2 separate regions of the Homo sapiens genome follow, and region 1 is linked to region 2. The links come from fine-mapping of genetic effects on gene expression. Tissue or cell type: monocytes after interferon gamma. Region 2 holds a variant in brackets; the other region holds the start of a gene. All regions are shown on one strand. Distances are between the middles of the regions.

What was found. PIP is the estimated chance that this variant, and not a neighbour inherited with it, causes the effect.
Region 1: it holds the start of FLYWCH2, and the variant in region 2 is fine-mapped to the expression of FLYWCH2 in monocytes after interferon gamma (Fairfax 2014, PIP 0.93).

Annotation. Positions count from the first base shown.
Region 1 is chr16:2,879,888-2,887,973 of GRCh38, reverse strand. It overlaps FLYWCH2 (FLYWCH family member 2), which reads right to left and starts at 4,759. Exons shown (of 4, transcript NM_138439.3): 1 at 4,608-4,759. RefSeq lists silencers at 4,324-4,383, 4,474-4,643, 5,144-5,613 and an enhancer at 5,342-5,842.
Region 2 is chr16:2,914,704-2,922,802 of GRCh38, reverse strand. The region is part of intron 2 of FLYWCH1 (FLYWCH-type zinc finger 1); the gene reads right to left. It also overlaps the pseudogene RPL23AP86. Among named protein-coding and RNA genes, the nearest start is that of FLYWCH1, 6.8 kb to the right of the region's middle. The variant C/T (reference allele first, on the strand shown) is at 3,724.

The DNA.
Region 1 (8,086 bases), 35 kb after region 2:
AGAACTGAGAGTCCAGAAATACACTCTTATATATATGGTGAACTGATTTTCAGCAAAGGTGGCAAGACAGTTCTGTGGAGGGAAAATAGTCTTAACGACAAATGTTGGGCCAGGCGTGGTGGCTCATGCTTGTAATTCCAGTACTTTGGGAGGGTGATGTAGGAGGATCGCTTGAACCCAGGAGTTCCAGACCAGCCTAGGCAACATAGTGAGATCTCATCTCTAAAAAAAATATTATTAACCAGGGTGGTGGGGCACATATGTAGTTCCAGCAACTTGGGAGGCTGAGGTGGGAGCGTTGCTTGAGCCTGGGAGGTCAAGGCTGCAGTAAGCTGTGATTGTGCTGCTGTACCTCAGCCTGGGTGACAGAGCAAGACTCTGTCTCAAAAAATAATAATAATAATAATAAAAACAAACATTAAATGCTAGGACCACTGAATATCCAATACAAAAGAATGAAGTTGTATGCTTTCCTCACAGCATATACAAAAATTAACTCTAAATAAATTATATGGCTAGGCATGGTGGCTCATGCCTATAAACCTAGCACTTTGGGAGGCTGAGGTGGGCAGATCTCTTCAGCTCGGGAGTTCAGGTCTAGCCTGGGCAACATGGCGAGACCTCATCTCTACTAAAAATACAAAAAAAAAAAAAAAAAAAGAAAGCCGGGCATGGTGGTGTGCACCCGTGGTCCCAGCTACTTGGGAAGCTGAGGTGGAAGGATTGCTTAAGCCAGTGGGGCGGAGGTTGCAGTGAGCCGAGATTGCACCACTGCACTCCAGCTTGGGTAACAGAGTGAGATCCTGTCTCAAAACAACAAAAAAACAAAAAATTATAGTTTATTACAAGAGCTACAGTAATAAAACTTTTTTTTAAAAGAAAAACTAAATTCTCATAACCTTAGATTAGGCAAAGCTTTCTTCAATATAATGAAAGGCACAAACAACCAATGAAGAAATAAACTGGACTTCAACTAAGTTTAAGAGTTTTGTGTTTTAGCCATAAAACTTTTGAAAGTTAAGAGATAACCCATAGAATGGGAAAAAATGTTTGCAAATCATATATCTGATAAGGGACTTGTATCTGGAATTTATAAAGAACTATTACAACTCAGTAATAAACAAGCAAACAAACAAACAATTTAAAAATGGGCGGCTGGGCATGGTGGCTCACACCTGTAATCCCAGCACTTTGGGAGGCCGAGGCAGGTGGATCATCTGAGGTCGGGAGTTCGAGACCAGCCTGACCAACATGGAGAAACCCTGTCTCTACTAAAAATACAAAATTAGCCAAGCTTGGTGGCACATGCCTGTAATCCCAGCTACTCAGGAGGCTGAGACAGGAGAATTGCTTGAACCCAGGAGGCGGAGGTTGCGGTAAGCTGAGATTGCACCAGTGCACTCCAGCCGGGACAACAAGAGCAAAATCCGCCTCAAAAAAAAAAAAAAAAAAAAAAAGGACAAAGGGGCAGGGCGTGGTGGCTCATGCCTGTAATCCCAGCACTTAGGGAGGCTGAGGCAGGAGGATCACCTGAGGTCAGGAGTTCGAGATCAGCCTAGACAACATAGTGAAACCCTGTCTCTACTAAAAATACAAAAATTATTTTCTTTTTTGGATTGGTGGCATGGTGGCACATGCCTGTAATCCCAGCTACTCAGGAGGCTGCGCAGCATGAGAATTGCTTGAACCCGGGAGGTGGAGATTTCAGTGAGCCGAGGTGGCGCCACTGCACTACACTGCACTGCAGCCTGGGCATCAAAGTGGTACTCCGTCTAAAAAAAAAAAATAATAACAATAATAATAATAATGGGCAAAGGCTCCAAACAGGCTTTTCTCTAAAGAAGATATACAAATGGCTAATATATGAGAAGATGCTCAACATCATTAGTCACCAGGGAAATGCAAATCAAAACCACAATGAGATATCACTTCACACCACCAGGATGGACATAATAAAACAAACAAAAAACAGATAATAGCAAGTGCTGGTGAGGATGAGGAGAAACTGGAACCCTCATACACTGCTGAGGGGAATGTAAAATGGTGCAGCCATTTTTGGAAACCAGCCTGGCAGTTCCTCAAAAGGTTAAATGTAGAGTTACCCTATGACCCAGCAATTCCACTACTAGCTATATGCCTGGAAGAAAGGAAAACACATGTCCACATAAAAATGTGTACATGAATGTTACAGTTGCATTATTCATGAAAGCCAAAACGTTTCGATGGATATTCAAAACAGCCCAAATATCCATCAATGGATGAATGAATAAGTACAATGTGGTGCATGTATAAAATGGAATATTATTTGGCAGTAAAAAAAATCTATGCTACAACATGAATGAACCTTGAAGAAATTATGCTCGGTAAAAGAAGCCAGACCCAAAAGACCACATATTATATGATTCCATTTACATGAAATTACTTAGAGTCTAGAGAATCTACAGAGTAGGAAAATCTATGGAGACAGAACGTAGATTTGTGGTTATCTCGGGATTGGGGTGGGGAAGGGGAGAATGAGAATTGACTACTAGTGGGTATGTGCTTTATGGGGTGATGAAAATGTCCTAAAAGGAATTTTCATGAGGGTTGCACAACTTTGTGATCACACTAAAGCCACTGAACTGTATATTTTTTTTTTTGTTTTGTTTTGTTTTTTTGAGACGGAGTCTCGCTCTGTCGCCCAGGCTGGAGTGCAGTGGCGTGATCTCACTGCAAGCTCCGCCTCCCGGGTTCACGCCATTCTCCTGCCTCAGCCTCCGGAGTAGCTGGGACTACAGGCGCCTGCCACCACGCCTGGCTAATTTTTTGTATTTTTAGTAGAGACGGGGTTTCACCGTGTTAGCCAGGATGGTCTCGATCTCCTGACCTCGTGATCCGCCCTCCTTGGCCTCCCAAAGTGCTGGGATAACAGGCGTGAGCCACCGCGCCCGGCCGAAATGTACACTTTAAATGGGTAAATTGCACGGTATGTGAATTATCTCAATAAAGTTGTTAAATATTCAGAAAAAGGTAAATTGAGTCTATGAACATATGAACAGCAGTTCCCCAATGTCACTATCCCTAAGAATCACCCGGAGTTTTTTTTTTGTTTTTGTTTTTTAGACGGAGTATCGCTCTTGTCGGCCAGGCTGGAGTGCAGTGGCGCGACCTTGGGTCACTGCAACCTCTGCCTCCCGGGTTCAAGCCTTTCTCCTGTCTCAGCCTCCCAAGTAGCTGGGATTACAAGCGTGCACCACCACACCCGGCTAATTTTGTATTTTTAGTTGAGACGGGGTTTCTCCATGTTGGTCAGGCTGGTCTCGAACTCCCGACCTCAGGTGATCCACCCTCCTTGGCCTCCCAAAGTGCTGGGATTACAGGCGTGAGCCACCGCGCCGGCCCCGACTAATTTTTGTATTTTTTTTTTTTTTTTTTTAGTAGAGACGGGGTTTCACCATGTTAGTCAGAATGGTCTCTATCTCCTGACCTTGTGATCTGCCTGCCTCGGCCTCCCAAAGTGCTAGGATTACAGGCGTGAACCACCGCGCCCGGCCTGTGTTGCTTTAAGCCACCTTATTTGTTAGGACAGCAACAGGAAACTAATACAAGGTTCAATCCCTCACTGACGATGTTCTGGACGACAGGACCCCTGCCTGGTGCCTCATGGTGGACCCACAGAATCATCTTCATACGCACGGGGGAGAAACATCACTAATGTCCACCAGCACCGGCATCCTCAGCCGCGAGGACAAATCCCTTACCCTCCCAGCAGGTTTCATCTGCGTAACGGAAATAGTGGTGAATTTATCAGGGGCTGTTAATAGATGACAGGCAAGGGTGAAGTCATCGCAAAAGTTCCCAGACGATATGGACAGCTGCTCCCCAATAATTACTGCTCCACGCAGTCCACAGCGGGGCTGTTATTGACCCCGACAGGATGACGGGACACTAAGGTGTGCAGTACACGTCCTCACAGGGAGATTTAAAAAACCGGCAGTGACCCCTGCCCCAAGAAGGCCAAGAACTGCTACTCTAAGGTGTGCAGCGCGGAGCTTCCCCACCATGGCAATTTCAGCCATGGCAGCTCCTTCCCCTAATCACCAGGGCTCAGAATCTTTATTTCACTCCTTTACCCAATGCAATTGGCATCAAACGCGGGCTGGGCTGCGCCCAAATGGTCCCAGCTCCCCGGCTCTCTCCTCTCTCAAGAATACCCACACCCTGAGGCCCCGAGTGTCTCCCCCGCCCCAGTATCTCACGCCTCCAACTCGCTGCCGTCCCTGCAGGGACCTCCCGAGCTGCAACCGTGGGACGAGGCCGGCGGGGGTTGGGGGGTGCCGGGAAGGCAGCGCTGGGCGCGGCGGACACGGCCAGGGACCGGCGGGCGAGTGCGGACCTCCTTCGTGTGGGGGTGTTGAGGCTTTGGACAAGGGACTGGAGGGGGTGGGGAAGGAGGGGCGAGAGGCAAAGAGGGAATCGCGGGAGACCCCACAGGAGGCGGCCTGAGCACCAGGACGCGGACCCCTCCTCAGCACCCGCAGCCCTCGGGACCCCCGAGAGAGCCGGGCCGGGGACTCGTCCATGCCGAGGACGCAGGACCCTCCCCGCCCGCCAGGGCCCGTCCTCACCGACGACAGCGGTGCCCTCCCTCTCCGGCGACAGCGCCGCGGCGGGTCCCTCAGCCTCCGCGCCAAGGGCCCCAGCCTCAGCTCGCGCTGTTACCTCAAGCCGGGGTCACAGCGCGAGCATGCGCAGCAAGGCCGCGGGTGCCCTGTCTTCTGGCTGGGGCCGCTCCTCCGCGTCTTGCCCGTGCGGCGTAGAGCTGGCGTCCGGCCAATCGGAGGGCGGAGGCGGGGCCAAAATTCAGTAAGGGGGCGGGGACACCCGGGATTGAGTGTCGCCGTCAGGGGCGGAGCCTCGGGGGACCTGCGGCCTGGATCCGGGTTGCGGGCGAGGTTATCCCAGCACCAGTGGGTTGGGCTTCACTGCGACCCCCGGGCTTCCTCACGGATTTGACTCCGGCTCTCTGCGGGGAAAACTGGAGCATTTGTTTAAAGGTTTTGCTCTCCCCCGTCGCGATACCGAGCGTGCGGAGGGAAGGTGTTTAGGCTCATGGAAGCCACTGCCTTGCTTTAAGCTCTGCATCCTTGACGACGCAGCAGCCTCATCCGCGCCATTGGTCCAGCCCTCGTCTATTAGTTTAGCCCCTGCCCATTGGTCCAGCCCTCGCCCAATAGTCCCGCCCTCTCTCTGTAGTTCAGCCCCTGTCCATTCATCCTTTCTCGTTATTGGTCCAGCCCTGGCCCATTGGGCCCACCCGTGCCCACGGGCCCCGCCCTCTCCGTGCCCAACCACGTTCACCCGGCCCAAGGGGTGCCCGGGACACTCGCCATCCTCCAGCCACCCACTGCAGTGGGACTGGGCTGGGTCCGGGCACAGGGAGCTGTGGGGCCCTGGGCGCTGCTTTCCTGGGACACTTGGCTGCAGCGTCCAGAGCGGCCCCCGCACAGCCCCCTAGGCTCACCGCGGCTCTCCCAGCCCCGCGGGGTCGCCCCCACTACCCCGGCCACCTTGGTCCCCCTAAGCCTGGCTCCGCGCCCCGCCCCCCTCGCTCTAAAGCGGCCGCTGAATGTGCCACCGCCCCAGGGCTCCAGGGTCCAGGTCGAGATCCTCTGGGGCCTCCCGCACCTTCCGCCTTCTCACGTCCGAATGCCAGCGTCGCTGCACGCCCTTCCTCTGCCCTGCCCCTCCCGGCCCTGGCTCTGCAGGTCTCTGAATCCCACCGTGGACTCCGCTACCAAGGCTCCCGCTGCCCCCATCCCACTATCCTATCTCCCCGGGCATTGTCTGGTGTCATTCAAGGCCTTTGTGCTTTTTTTTTTTTTTTAGAAACGAGAATTGCGCTCTGTCGCTCAGGCTGGAGTGCAGTGGCGTGATCTCGGCTCGCTGCAACCTCTGCCTCCCGGGTTCAAGCAATTCTCATGCCTCAGCCTACTGAGTAGCCGGGATTACGGGCGCCCGCCACCACGCCCGGCTAATTTTTGTACTTTTAGTAGAGACGGGTTTCACCATGTTGGCCAGGCTGGTATTGAACTTCTGACCTCAGGTGATCCACCCGCCTCGGCTTCCTAAAGTGCTGGGATTACAAGAGTGAGCCACCGTGCCCAGCTACCTTTGTGCATTTATTTGCTGTTATCTATTAATCATTCACAGACTACTGGTTGTTTTTAACTTGATGATGTTATAAATATCTTTGTATATGAATCTCTGATGTCAAAGATTTTTTTTTTTTTTTTTTGAGATGGAGTCTCGCTCTGTCGCCCAGGCTGGAGTGCAGTGGCGTGATCTCTGCTTATTGCAACCTCCGCCTCCCGGGTTCAAGCGATTTTCCCGCCTCAGCCTCCCAAGTAGCTGAGATTACAGGCACCGGTAATCATGCTTAATTTTTATATTTTTGTAGAGATGGGATTTCACCATGTTGGCCAGGCTGGTATCAAACCGGAGTTACCTCCGGTGATCTGCCCACCTCGGCCTCCAAAAGTGCTGGGATTAGACATGTGAGCCACCTTGCCTGTCGAGATATTAAAGATTTTTTTTTTTTGAGACAGAGTCTCACTCTGTTGGCAAGACCGGAGTGCAGTAGCACGATCTCAGCTCACTGCAACCTCCGCCTCCTGGGTTCAAGTGGTTCTCCTGCCTCAGCCTCCCAAGTAGCTGAGATTACAGGCGCCTGCCACCGCACCCAGCTAATTTTTTTGTATTTTTAGTAGAGACGGAGTTTCACCATCTTGGCCAGGCTGGTCTTGAACTCCTGACCTCGTGATCCACCCGCCTCAGCCTCCCAAAGTGCTGGGATTACAGGTGTGAGCCACCGCACCCAGCCAAAGATTTCTTGAAAGTCTTAAAAGAGGTCAAAGGAGGCAAATATTTTTAAAAGCTTTTTAAACATGTAGCCAAATTGTCCCCAAGGAAGTGCACAAGCTTGGGGTTAGATGCTTGGGTTCAAGTCCCTGCTGTGTCAATTGCCAGCTGTGTGAATGAGCAATTACATCCCCTCTCTGTGCCTCAGTGTCTTCACCTGATAAATGGGGGTGATAACGCACCCACCTCCTACAGCCATTGTGAGAATTCACAGAGTATTGTCATGTGGACTGATAAGAGTCTTGGTTGTTTTCTGTTTCTTTTTGTTTTTGTTTGAAACAGAGTTTCACTCTTGTTGCCCAGGCTGGGGTGCAGTGGTGTGATCTCGGCTGACTGCAACCTCCACCTCCTGGGTTCAAGTGATTCTCCTGCCTCAGCCTCCCAAGTAGCTGGGATTACAGGTGCCCGCCACTAAGCCCGGCTAATTTTTTTTGTGTTTTTAGCAGAGACGGGGTTTCACTATGTTGTCCAGGCTGGTCTTGAACACCTGACCTTGTGATCCACCCATCTCGGCCTCCCAAAGTGTTGGGATTACAGGCATGAGCCACCGTGCCTGGTGAGTCTTGGTTTTAAAATTTATATTCCTTAGTCCAGCAATTCTCAAACTTTCTGGTCTCAGAACCACTTATGACACAGGATTTTTCAGTGCCCCTTAGTCAGCCAGAGACCTCCATGGCCAGCAGCACCCCTGTTCAGGCCTCCCTTGGCCTGGGCTCGGTGCAGGAGACACCCCACCCATTCCGCCATTTGTGTCATGTTACAGCTCTTTCAATCCCGCTGCCCCCCTTGGGTCCTCAGCTTCAGGGCTGGCCCAGCCCACTGCTATTTCCTCTTGCCTGGGCAGGTTCTGGGGGTGGGTGGAGGGCTACAGTGTTACAGCCTTTTTCCTACCAGTGGTAGACCCTCCAGAGTTCTTGTCCCACATCCAAGAAGAATGAGGTTATGCTGACAGCCAGTGGGTGAGCAGGGTGAAGAGTTTTATTGAGCTAACAAACAGCTCTCAGCGAAGAGGGGACCCTCTCAAAGTCGGGTAGTTCCCCCCGCCATGGTGTGTAGACCCCAAGTGTGGCTGAGTCTGAGGTTTTTATTGGCTCAGAATGGGGGAGTGCATGCTGATTGGTTTCTGAGTATGCAAAAAAGGCTTAAAAGGCACTCAAAATTGGGCATGACAGTGTAAACAACCAGT
Region 2 (8,099 bases):
TCAAACAGGCTGTGAAGAACTCTGTGAGGTGGTTGTGGCCCAGGTCAATACCCTGATTGGGCCTGATGGAGAGAAGAAGGCACATGTTCCACTGGCTCCTGATCAGGATGCTTTGGGTGTGGCCAACAAAATGGAGATCATGTAAACCGAGTCCGGCTGGCTAATTCTAAATATATGTATATCTTTTCACCATAAAAAAATCTGCAACATACGACATGCCAGGCACAAGGGGACAAACACTGTCTGATTCCACTTGTATGAGGTCCCCAGGGCAGTCAAACTTATGGGGACAGAAAGTAGAATGGGGGTGCCAGGGGCAGGAGGATGAGGAGGGAGTGTTTCATGGGCACAGAGCAGCCGTTGGGGAAGATGAAAAGGTTCTGGAGATGGACGGTGGTGACGGATGAACAATGAATGTGAACCGCTGACCTGGACACTTCAACATCGAGGCTCAGGGAGAGCAGCTGCTCACAAAGACCAAGGGTTGTAGGATGCAATTTACATGAATGACCAATATGGTAAATTTTACGTCATGTATATTTAACCCTACACACACACACACACACACACACGAGCCATCTGTAACAAACTATACACAAAACACCCCATTTCCCTAACATTATCAGTGAATAAGCTTCTCCCTACAAGGTAGATTTTCTAGTAACTAAAGTTATCCCGCCATGATTCAGAATATGATTTTTATCTGATTCAAAATGTACCCATTTAAGATGGATTCTTTTTTTTAACTCTGTCACCCAGTTGCCCAGGCAGGAGTGCAGTGGCACGATCTCAGTTCATTGCAACCTCTGCCTCCCGGGTTCAAGTGATTCTCCCGCCTCAGCCTCCTGAGTAGCTGGGACTACAGGCGCGCGCCACCACACCTAGCAAATTTTTGTATTTTTTAGTAGAGATGGGGTTTCACCATATTGGCCAGGATGGTCTCGAACTTCCGACCTCATGATCTGCCTGTCTTGGCCTCCCAAAGTGCTGGGATTACAGGTGTGAGCCACCACACCCGGCCAGAATGAATACCTTTTATTTTTTATTTTAGTGGCAGGATTTCACTACAGCCTAAACCGGAGTGTGGTGGCGTGATCACTACAGCCTCTGCCTCCCAGGCTCAAGCCATCTTCCCACCTCAGCCTCCAGAGTAGCTGGGACCACAGGCGCACACTACCATGCCCGGCTAATTTCTGTATTCTTTGTAGAGACGGGGTTTTGCCAGGTTGCCCAGCCTGGTTTTTTAATTAAATTAAAAAAAAATATTTTGGTAATGACAGGGTCTTGCTATATTTCCAGGTTGGTTTTGAACTCCTGGGATCAAGCGATCCTCCCACCTCAGCCTCCCAAGCACCGGATGGATGCCTCTATAAGCTCTTCTCACCCGCTTCCCTGTCCAGAGAAAGGGAGCAACCATCCTCCCTCTGGCTTTAGAAGCAAAAAAAAAAAAAGTCCTAAAATTGATGGTGGTGATACTTGGACAGCTTTCTGAATATATTAAAAGCAATGAATTGTAGACTTAAAAAGTCCTAAAATTGATGGTGGTGATACTTGGACAGCTTTCTGAATATATTAAAAGCAATGAATTGTAGACTTTAGATGGAGAAATCATATGGTATTATGTAAATTATATCTCAGGAAAGTTATTGAAAAACAATCCCTGTCTGGGAATGGTGGCTCACGCCTGTAATCCCAGCACTTTGGGAGGCCGAGGCGGGCAGATCACGGGGTCAGCAGATCGAGACCATCCGGGCTAACACAGTGAAACCCCGTCTCTACTAAAAACACAAAAAATTAACTGGGCGTGGTGGCGGGCGCCTGTAGTCCCAGCTACTCGGAAGGCTGAGGCAGAAGAATCGCTTGAACCCGGGAGGCAGAGGTTGCAGTGAGCTGAGATCGCGCCACTGCACTCCAGCCTGGGCGACAGAGTGAGACTGTCTCAAAAAAAAAAAAAAAAAAAAAGGCCAGGCGTTGTGGCTCACGCCTGTAATCCTAGCACTTCGGGAGGCCAAGGTGGGCAGATCACCTGAGGTGGGGAGTTTGAGACCAGCCCGACCAACATGGAGAAACCCCGTCTCCACTAAAAATACAAAAATAGCCAGGCATGGTGGCATATGCCTGCAATCCCAGCTACTCGGGAGGCTGAGGCAGGAGCTCACGCTATTGCACTCCAGCCTGGGCAACAAGAGCAAAACTCCATCTCAAAAAAACAAAAACAAACAAACAAACAATGGTCAGAATGACTCAGATTCCAAGGGTCTCTTGGTGGAAAAGTGTTTTTTTTTTTTTTTAAGACAGAGTCTCACGGCCACCCAGGCTGGAGTGCAATGGCGTAATCTTAGCTCACTGCAACCTCCGCCTCCTGGGTCAAGCGATTCTCAGGCCTCAGCCTCCTGAGTAGCTGGGATTATAGGCACCTGAAACCACACATGGCTAAATTTTGTTTTGTATTTTTAGTAGAGATGGAGTTTCACCATTTTGGCCAGGCTGGTCTCGAACTCCTGGCCTCTAGTTACCTACCTGCCTCCTAAAGTGCTGGGATTACAGGTGCTCTACTAAACATCAGAAGCTTCTTGTTCTTGGGTTTGGTTTACTCATCAAAGAAGGGGTGGCATGCATTATATGTTGTGAAATTTTCTAAGTTCTAATATCATATTCTAAAAATATATAGAAACTATTTCAGAATGTTAAGACTATAATACTAAAATGACCCCTAATCCTGCCACTCAAATGCACAACTACTTCCATTGTTGAACTAATGCCTTTAAGGCGCTTGCTTTTCTGTAGCACACACTGCGTTCAATCATGTCTGCTACTGTATCCCCCTCGAGAGCAGGAAGCCCCCACCAGAGGCCACCTGGAGTCTTTCCAAAGGACCATTACATAAGGCAGGACCACCCGTCACGGGGGAAGCGCAAATTTAAATCCTCAGCAGCAATACTCCATATGGCCACAAGATGGTGGTGTTGCTCCTGAAATGTTCCTATTGCCTTGGTAAAATTACACGGGTGGCAATGTTTTCAAACAAGAATTTGGAAATTTTTCCAAGTTGGAAAAAAAATTCAAGAGGATTTCCAAAATGTTATATTTACAAAAAGTAGTACTTCGAGCTGGGCATGGTGGTGCGTATGTGTAGTCCCAGCCACTTGGGAGGTTGTGGCAGGAAAATGGCTTGAGCCCAGGAGTTTGAAGCCAATCTGGGCAACATCACATGACCCCATCTCAAGAAACAAAAAATAGGCCAGACGCGGTGGCTCACGCCTGTAATCCCAGCACTTCGGCAGGCCAAGGCAGGCGGATCACGAGGTCAAGAGATCGAAACCATCCTGGCAAACATGGTGAAACCCCGTCTCTACTAAAAATACAAAAATTAGCTGGGTGTGGTGGCGCATGCCTGTAATCCCAACTACTCGGGAGGCTGAGGCAGGAGAATCGCTTGAACCCAGGGGGCAGAGGTTGCAGTGAGCCGAGACCATACCACTGTACTCCAGCCTGGGAGACAAAGCAAGACTCCGTCTCAAAAAAAAAAAAAGAAACAAAAAATTAAAACAAATGAATAAATATACACGCATATATCAGAGAGCAGCTGGGTGTGGTGGCTCACGCCTGTAATCCCAGCACTTTGGGAGGCTGAGGTGGGTGGATCACAACGTCAGGAGATCGAGACCACCTTGGATAACATCTACTAAAACACAAAAGATTAATCAGGAGTGGTGGTGAGCA[C/T]CTGTAATCCCAGCTACTTGGGAGGTGGAGGCAGAAGAATTGCTTTGGAGGTTGCAGTGAGCCGAGATCATGCCACTGCACTCCAGCCTGGGCAAAAGAGGGAGACTCTGCCTCAAAAAAGAAAAAAAAAGAAAGCAAAATCCAATTAACAAATTCAGTAAAGACTATCTTTCTAAACAAGTTTTTGTTTCCAAAAAAGACCAAAATATTACTTGGACAAGACACTACGTTCTAGCCCTCAATCCACTGGTCTTTCCTACTATTTCCTTTCTATTCTGGTCATATTTGTTATTCATTGGCGAATTTTATTTTACATGTTTATAACTTAAAAACATTTAAGGCCAGGCACGGTGGTTCACGCCTCTAATCCCAGCACTTTGGGAGGCCGAGGCAGGCGGATCACCTGAGGTCGGGAGTTTGAGACCAGCCTGACTAAAATGGAGAAACCCCGTCTCTACTGAAAATACAAAAATTAGATGGTCATGTTGGTGCATGCCTGTAATCCCAGCTATTCAGGAGGCTGAGGCAGAAGAGTCACTCGAAACCGGGAGGTGGAGGTTGCAGTGAGCCAAGATCCTGCCATTGCACTCCAGCCTGGGCAACAAGAGCAAAACTCCCTCTCAAAAAAAAAAAAGCCTGGCGCGGTGGCTCACGCCTGTAATCCCAGCACTTTAGAAGGCCAAGGCAGGCGGATCACGAGGTCAGGAGATCGAGACCATCCTGGCTAACACGGTGAAACCCCGTCTCTACTAAAAATACAAAAAATTAGCTGGGCGCGGTGGCGGCCGCCTGTAGTCCCAGCTACTCGGGAGGCTGAGGCAGGAGAATGGTGTGAGCCTGGGAGGCGGAGCTTGCAGTGAGCCGAGATTGCCCCACTGCACTCCAGCCTGGGCGACAGAGCGACACTGTCTCAAAAAAAAAAAAAAAAAAAAGGAATCCAAGGCCAGGCACAGTGGCACATACCTCTAATTCCAGCACTTTGGGAGGCCGAGGTGGGTGGATCACTTGAGGTCAGGAGTTCAAGACAAGCCCGGCCAACATGGCAAAACCCCATCTCTTCCAAAAAATACAAAAATTACCTGGGCATGGTGGCGGGCGCCTGTAATCCCAGCTACTCAGGAGGCTGAGGCAGGGAGAATTGCTTGAACCCAGGAAGTGGAGGTTGCACAGTGAGCCAAGATCGTGCCACTGTACTCCAGCCTGGGCAACAGTGAGACTCCATCTCGAGGGGGAAGAAAAGACTCCAGATTTTGGGGGGTGGGGAGAGGATCGGGGGAGGGGAAGAGGGAGGCCAAAGGAAGAGGGAGGAACAAGAATCTAGATTTTTCACAAATCCTCCTGATACTGATAGACTGTGAACTAGACTTTGACAAACACTAGAATAGATGACCTTGGGAAACAGAAGACTGCAGCTAAGCGACGAACCTAAGCAACACCTGAGGTTTGCTTTGTGCTGGGCACTAAAATACCTGAAGTATTTTATCTACATCATCTCATTTACTCTTTAATGTCATACAGGTTTCCTCATTAATGTCACAGAAAATCATTAACGGCCGGGCATGGTGGCTCACACCTGTAATCCCAGCACTTTGGGAGGCTGAGATGGGCGGATCACCTGAGGTCAGGAGTTCGAAACCAGCCTGACCAACATGGCAAAACCCCGTCTCTACTAAAAATACAAAATTAGCTGGGCGTCGTGGTGGGCGCCTGTAATCCCAGCTACTCGGGAGGCTGAGGCAGGAGAATCGCTTGTACCCGGGAGGTGGAAGTTGCAGTGAGCAGAGATCCCACCATTGCACTCCAGCCTGGGTGACAAGAGCAAAACTCCATCTCAAAAAAAAAAAAAAAATTATTAACAAGCTTACTTTGTATTATTGGGAAAGTCATGGCTTTTTAAAAATTTTTTTTACTTTTTTTTATTTTTGAGACAGAGTTTCGCTCTTTCACCTGGGCTGGAGTGCAGTGGCATGATCTCGGCTCACTGCAACTTCTGCCTTCTGGTTTCAAGCGATTCTCCTGCCTCAGCCTCCCAAGTAGCTGGGATTACAGGTGCGCGCTACCACGCCTGGCTAATTTTTGTTATTTTTTTTTTTTTTTTTACTAGAGATGGGGTTTCACCATGTTGTCCAGGCTAATCTCGAACTCCTGACCTCATGATCCACCCCCCTCGGCCTCCCAAAGAGCTGGGATTACAGGAGTGAGCCACCATGCCTGGCCGATTTCCTCGTTTTTGAAAGTATTAGCAATTTAACAAGTTTCAGGAACCTTAGGGGTATTTTGGGGAACCTCAAGAAGAGAGGAATTTGCCCAAATTTTAAGTACTACAGGTAAAATCTGATGGAGAAAGCATCCTGGACTTGCCTTCTGTGTCTCAGGATATCAAACAACGAATTTTTAAATTTCTTTTTTCTTTTTTTTATTTTTTGTTTTGTTTTGTTTTTTTGAGATGGAGTCTCGCTCTGTCACCCAGGCTGGAGTGCAGTGGTGCGATCTCGGCTCTCTGCAAGCTCTGTCTCCTGGGTTCACGCCATTCTCCGGCCTCAGCCTCCAGAGTAGCTGAGACTACAGGCACCTGCCACCAGGCCTGGATAATTTTTTGTATTTTGTTAGTAGAGACGGGGTTTCACCATGTTAGCCAGGATGGTCTCTATCTCCTGACTTCGTGATCCGCCTGCCTCAGCTTCCCAAAGTGCTGGGATTACAGGCGTGAGCCACCACACCCGGCCTGTATTTTTGTTTTGAGATGGAGTCCCACTCTGTTGCCCAGGCTGGAGTACAGTGGCATGATCTCAGCTCACTGCAACTTCTGCCTCCTAGGTTAATTATCCTGACTCAGCTTCCTGAGTAGCTAGGATTACAGGCACGCACCAACACGCCCAGCTAACTTTTGTTTTTAGTAGAGATGAGGTTTCATCATGTTGGCCAGGCTGGTCTCGAACTTCTGACCTCAAGTGATCAGCCCGTCTTTGCCTCCCAAAATGCTGGGATTACAGGTGTGAGCCACGGCACCTGGCCAAAACAACAGACTTTAAAAAGTCTAAGTTTCCTTATGGAGACTTCCAGGCAGGCAAACTCAGGTAGGCTTATCTGGTGAATCAGTACTATTGCTGCACTACATAATCAGGCCAAATATGATGAAATCAGCCTTATAATCAAAAATATGTTTCCTTGGCCACTGTAGAAGAGGCCAGTTTTGCCTCCATTTGCACATTCATTTCAATATTCCTGATCTAGAATCTTGTAGATTCTTCTTTGGATTCTCTCTTTTTTTTTTTTTTCTCTCGACACAGAGTCTTGCTCTGTCTCCCAGGCTGGGGAGCAGTGGCTAGATCTCAGCTAACTGCAACCTCCGATTCCCAGGCTCAAGCCATTCTGGTGCCTCTGCCTCCCGTGATCCGCCCACCTTGGCCTCTCAAAGTGCTGGGATTACAGGCGTGAACCACTGCGACCAGCCCATGTAATTTTAAAAATTGCTGACTGGAACCTAATGATTTTAGGACCAATGACTAAGCAGTTTCAAAAACAGTGCCCTAGACCAAAACAAAGGAAATACAATTCTTTTATACTCATATAAAGCAAACACATGTTAAAGATTTTACTTACCGTTAGCCAGTAAGGTGGAGCTCAGGAGTTTGAGACCGGCCTGGCCAACATGGTGAAACCCTGTCTCTACTAAAAATACAACAATTAGCTGGGCTTGGTAGCACAGGCCTGTAATCCCAGTTTGCCGCCTGGCCAACACGGTAAAACCCTGTCTCTACTAAAAATACAAAAAAATTAGTCGGTCGTGGTGCATGCCTGTAATCCCAGCTGCTCAGGAGGCTGAGGCAGAACTCACTGAACCTACCGGGGAGATGGAGGTTGCAGTGAGCCAAGATCACACCAATGCACTCCAGCCTAGGCAACAAAATGAGACTGTCTCAGGAAAAAAAAAAAAAATTTCAGTGCATGTAATAAAAATGAGTATATTTTAATACATTTATATTATTTAATAAATTCAATAAATATCTCATTTAATAAAAATTAGAAACTTTTGTTACTCTAGTTTAAGTGCTTTTTTTTTTTACAGTAGATACCCATTGTTTTACAGTAGATACAGGGGCCCTAATGTGTTTCTTTTGTAATGTTCAATCTTCATTCAGTACAAATTTCTTTTTTTTTTTTTTTTTTTGAGACAGAGTCTCACTCTGTCGCCCAGGCTGGAGTGCAGTGGCTCGATCCTGTCTCACTGCAACCTCCGCTGAATCCTTGAACCAGGTTCAAGCGATTCTGCTCCTCAGGCTCCTGAGTAGCTGGGATTACAGGTGTGCGCCACCACGCCCAGCTAAATTTTTTGTATTTTTAGTATAGACAGGGTTTCACCATGTTAGCCAGGC